Regions from separate parts of the Homo sapiens genome. Here region 2 is linked to region 1. Evidence: fine-mapped expression QTL. Tissue or cell type: non-classical monocytes. Region 1 holds a variant in brackets; the other region holds the start of a gene. All regions are shown on one strand. Distances are from middle to middle.

Region 1 (2,757 bases):
TTTAATAGAGACGGGGGGTTTCACCACGTTGGCCAGGCTGGTCTTGAACTCCTGACCTCGTGATCCACCTGCCTCGGCCTCCCAAAGTGCTGGGATTACAGGCGTGAGCCACCGGGCCTGGCCCGTTTGGGTTTTTTTTTTTTTTGAGACAGAGTCTCACTCTGTTGCCCAGGCTGGAGTGCAGTGGCCTGATCTTGCTTGGCTCACTGCAACCTCCGCCTCCTGGGTTCTCCTGCCTCGGCCTCCAGAGTAGCTGGAATTACAGGTATGTGCCACCACGTCTGGCTGATTTGTGTGTTATTAGTAAAATGAGGTTTCACCATGTTGGTCAGGCTGGTCTTAAATTCCTGACCTCAAGTGATCTGCCCATCTCGGCCCCCAAAGTGCTGGGATTACAGCCACCACACCCAGCTTTTTTTTTTTTTTGAGACAGGATGTCACTCTGTCACCCAGGCTGGAAGTGCAATGGCCCGATCTCGGCTCACTGCAACCCTCGCCTCCCGAGTTCAAGTCATTCTCCTGCTGCAGCCTTCAGAGTAGCTGGAATTACAGGCACGTGCCACCATGCCCGGCTGATTTTTGAATTATTAGTAGAGACAGGGTTTCACCATGTTGGCCAGGCTGGTCTCGAACTCCTGACCTCAAGTGATCCGCCCATCTCGGCCCACAAAGTGCTGGGATTACAGGTGTGAGCCACCGCGCCCGGCCAGAGCTTTAAGTTTTCTTGTTCTGAAAGGCAGATGTGAATTTAAAACTCATTGACTTTTCTGTACTTTTCTTCTAATCTCAACAGCATTGAGTTCTCCTGCATGCCAAGCTCATTTCTGCCCTCGAGTTTTTCTTTTTTTTTTTCTTTTTCTGCGACAGAATCTTGCTCTGTCACTCAGGCTGGAGTGCAGTGGCACCATCTCGGCTCACTGCAAGCTCTGCCTCCCGGGCTCACGCCATTCTCTTGCCTCAGCCTCCCCAGTAGCTGGGACTACAGGCGCCCGCCACCACACCCGGCTAATTTTTTTTGTATTTTTAGTAGAGACGGGGTTTCACCGTGTTAGCCAGGATGGTCTTGATCTCCTGACCTCGTGATCTGCCCACCTTAGCCTCCCAAAGTGCTGGGATTACAGGCGTGAGCCACCGCGCCCGGCCTCCTAGAGTTTTTCACTAGCTATTTCTTCTGCCTGGAATGTTCTCCTCCCTGCCCCCCTACCCCAACCCAGGTATTTCCTGTCATTTGGAGTTCAGTTTAGATGCAGCCTCATAGAGGCCTTTCCTGACCACTCAACCTGAAGTCGTATTTGAGGCCCTCTCTATCATACCATTCTACTTTATTTTATTTTAATGTATTATTTTATTTTTTTTGAGACAGGGTCTTGCAATGTTGCTTAGGCTGGAGTGCAGTGGTGCAATCATAGCTCACTGCAACCTCGAACTCCTGGGCTCAAATGATTCTTTCACCTCAGCCTCCTGAGTAGCTGGGACTACAGGCATGCGCTACCATGCCTGGCTAATTTTT[T/A]AAAAAATTTTGGCTGTGCGTGGTGGCTCACACCTGTAATCTCAGCACTTTAGGAGGTCAAGGTGGGAGGGTCACTTGAACCCAGGAGTTAAAGATCTGCCGGGGCCACATAGTGAAACCTTGTCTATACTTAAAAAAATAGTTTTAGAGATAGGATCTTGCTATGTTGTCCAGGCTGGTCTCAAACTCCTGGCCTCAAGCTATCCTCCTGCCTCGGCCTCCCAAAGTGCTGAAATTATAGGCATGAGCCACCGCACCCAGCAGCATTCTATGTTAACTCTAATAGTGCTTAGCGCTAGCTATGGCACGTTGAATAAGGGATCCCCAAAGATGCCCAAGTCCGAATCCTCAGAACCTGTGAATGTTCATGATATGGTTTGGCTGTGTCCCCACCCAAATCTCATCTTGAATTGTAATTCCCACAGTTCCCATGTGTCGTGAGAGGAACCCAGTGGGAGGTGATTGAATTATAAGGGTGGGTCTTTCCTGGGCTGTTCTCATGATAGTAAATGAGTCTCACAAGATCTGATAATCTTAAAAACGGGAGTTTTGCCTGGGCACGGTGGCTCACACCTGTAATCCCAGCACTTTGGGAGGCCGAGGTGGGTGGATCACAAGGTCAGGAGTTCGAGACCAGCCTGGCCAATATGGTGAAACCCCATCTCTACTAAAAATGCAAAAATTAGCTGGATATGGTGGCATGTACCTGTAGTCCCAGCTACTAGGGAGGCTGAGGCAAAAGAATCGCTTGAACCTGGGAGGTGGAGGTTGCAGTGAGCCGAGATGCTGCCACTACACTCTAGCCTGGGCAATAGAGCAAGAGTCTGTCTCAAAACAAAACAAAAACAAAACAAATAAAAAATGGGAGTTTTTCTGCACAAGCTCTCTCTTTGCCTGCTGCCATCCACATAAGATATGGTTTGCTCCTCCTTGACTTCCACCATGATTGTGAGGCCTCCCCAGCCATGTGGAACTGTTAAGTCCAAGAAACCTCTTTGTTTTGTAGATTGCCCAGTCTCGGGTATTCTTTATTAGCAGTGTGAAAATGGACTAATACAGTTCACCTTATATAGCAAAAAAAGTCTCTGATCATTTTATACTTAACATGATTACGTGTTCACAAGTGATCACATGATCATTTTATACTTAACATTTTTAGGAACTGCTAACCTGTTTTTTCTCATTTTCTATGTCTTGGAAGAGTTTATGAAGAATTAGTATTTACTTTATTTAAATGTTTGATGGAA
Region 2 (2,628 bases), 130 kb before region 1:
GAGCAATGACTGTGTCACTCTACTGCAGCCTGGGTGACAGAGCAAGAGAGCCCCCCCAGCACCCCCTACAAATTTTTTTTTTAAAAATTAAAAAGGCGCGGTTCGAGAAGAGCTGTAGTCGTCCCAGAGCTACAGTGCAGGTGATATCAAAATGCAGGTGAGAAAACTGGAGACAGAATACAGTAACGGATACAGGTGCCCCTGAAAAGGTGCAGAGGCGCTAAGGACGCAAGCAATCCTGAACGTTCCAATCGTTCGTTTTAAAGTTGTCCTGGCCAACCCGTGAAGCCTTGTATGAGGAAATGTTTCAACGAGGGCGCCTGACGCAGTCCCCGAGGCCAGAAAACACCCAGGTTTAGATACGGGCTCTGACCCGCACCTGCCACAGCCAAATCCCTCCCCCTTCTGAGCCCGATCCCGTGTTGTCCTCCAGGGGTAAGCAAAACACCTGGCAGGGCTGCCTGAAGATTAGGGAAACTGAGGAGACGCGGCAGGTGCCCAGTATTTATAGTTTTGTCCCCAAACGGGGGAGTTATTTGTAAGCACTGGCTACTACCCCCGTCAATCACCTAATTGTCCAAAAAAAGGCAAACGGAGGGAATGCGCCGCAGCTGAGCACCGCGCAGGCCGCAGCTGAGGTGCACACCCGGGTGTGCCCTTTGTATTGCTGGAAGCGCTGGCGATCATAGGGGCAGAGGGCTGGCGTTGGGGCGGCCTGGGACCCACCCGGCCCCGCCCCCTCTCAGGCCCCGCCCTCCCCCTCCTCCACCGGTAGGGGGACCTCGGCCGGCCTGGGAGATCGGGGCGTAGGGGGAGGTGGGGGTGCATCCGCGAGCCCTAAAGGTCATGACCCTATGGGGCGTCTCTGGGTCGTCGTGGGGGATGGGCGGGGGGGGGGGTCTCCCCGCCACGGGAGGTCTAGAGAGCAGCGGCGGCGGGGCGGGGCGGAGTGCAGAGGCGCCGCCGGCGGGGCGGCTTCGGGAGGGCGCGGCCCCTTTAAGACGCCCCGCCGGCCCCGCCCCCGAGCCCCGCCTCCCGCCGCCCACGTGACCCCGGTCTTGTGACTGGGCCCGGGAGGGCGGGGGAAGCCCGCGGCTCGCGCCCGCCCCGCCCCGCCCCGCGTCTGCCTCAGAGGGGCCCGAGCCACCCGGTCCGCCGCGTCCCCGCCGCCGCCGCCGCGTCCCCCGCCGGGGCCGACCGAGCCGAGCCGGGCCGGAGCGGCGGGCGCGGCCGGGCCGCCATGGACCACAAGCCGCTGCTGCAGGAGCGGCCGCCCGCCTACAACCTGGAGGCCGGCCAGGGCGACTACGCGTGCGGCCCGCACGGCTACGGCGCCATCCCCGCCGCGCCCCCGCCGCCGCCCTACCCCTACCTCGTCACAGGTGGGCCCGTAACCAACTTTCCCCGCCGGCGGCTTCCGAGGTGGCAAGCCCGGTCGGGGGACGTGGGTCCGGAGGCGGGTGGGGCCCGCCCGGGGGTCCTTCCTGGAGCTGGAGGTCCCCGGGCTGGCTTCGGGACCCGGCGCCGCCGAGGGCCAGCCTCCCCCCCGGGGCTCTAGTCCTCGGGCCCGTCGTAACCCGGCGGGGCCGGATCCCTGCCCCAGATGAACTTTGTGTCACGAGGCGCTCGCTGTTGGCAGATTAGCGCCGAATCAGGCCCGCGGTGGCCGTCCCGAGGGTGGAAAAGACCGGGGGCTTTTTTAGCGGGGTGGAGGTTGAGGGGACAGGATGAGTAGTCCCCGTGGCGGTCCGATTTCTCCTCCCTGCACCCTAATGACCTGCTTTCCCGCCCACAGGGATACCCACCCACCATCCCAGGGTCTACAACATCCACAGCCGGACCGTCACCCGCTATCCTGCCAACTCTATCGTGGTCGTAGGAGGCTGTCCTGTCTGCAGGTGAGTGGGTCTGCAGCCTGGGGACTGGCCCTGGAAGCTCTGAGGACCCCCGCCCTAACCCCCAGGACCTCACAGCTCTGCTTGTGGGAGTGGGTCCGGCTTGACTTGGATCTTGACCAGAGCCCTTTATGGGAGGGACAGACAGGCTGCCCGAATGCGGTGTGGGAGAGTGCGGGTCCGCTCACCCTTGGCTCTGAACACATTTTGTGGGGGCAAAAGGGTGGATTCCTTTTCCTAGATCTTGGGGCATTGCACCCCAAGTGATTGGGATGTAGAAATGGTAACAACGGGACTCGTGGTCCTTTCGTCTTTGTTCTGGGACTTGCAAGGAATCAGGTGTCTGCTTTTTCCTTCACTTTCCGCAAGTTTACTCTGCAGTTGATCGTCGAAGGTGGTGGAAGGTTTCATTTTCCCGGAAGGGGCATTTGGAAGTAAGTGCACCAGCAGGACAGACCTCAGTGGGAGAAGCGACGGCCGTAAGAGCTGCTTTATCCAAAGTTGGCTTGAAACGCTCTTCCACGAGCTGGACCAGGATGGAAACCCCGTGTTTCTTTGAGGCAGGAGTTATTTTTTTCATATCCTCGCATTGGACCTGCACACGCTTTTTGGTTTTTATAGGGCCCCGAGGTGCAGCTAGAGGCTTGTTTTGTGGAGGTTTTGAGGATTCACATTTAAATAAGGATTAATTAAATATAAACCCTTGGCAGCTGGGGGTGTTCAGATTGCTTAG

Direction of the effects. Alleles are on the strand shown, and positions count from the first base shown. SD is a standard deviation of normalised expression in the study named.
In carriers of allele T in region 1, the expression in non-classical monocytes of the gene that starts at base 1,131 in region 2 tends to be higher than with A alone (large effect, 1.2 SD a copy in Schmiedel 2018).

What was found. PIP is the estimated chance that this variant, and not a neighbour inherited with it, causes the effect.
Region 2: it holds the start of BRI3, and the variant in region 1 is fine-mapped to the expression of BRI3 in non-classical monocytes (Schmiedel 2018, PIP 0.93).

The regions. Positions count from the first base shown.
Region 1 is chr7:98,406,735-98,409,491 of GRCh38, forward strand. No RefSeq gene overlaps it. Among named protein-coding and RNA genes, the nearest start is that of BAIAP2L1, 7.0 kb to the left of the region's middle. The variant T/A (reference allele first, on the strand shown) is at 1,511.
Region 2 is chr7:98,280,556-98,283,183 of GRCh38, forward strand. BRI3 (brain protein I3) reads left to right here and starts at 1,131. Exons shown (of 3, transcript NM_015379.5): 1 at 1,131-1,382; 2 at 1,796-1,898. The coding sequence starts at 1,241. RefSeq lists an enhancer at 1-946 and silencers at 643-1,152, 1,283-1,622.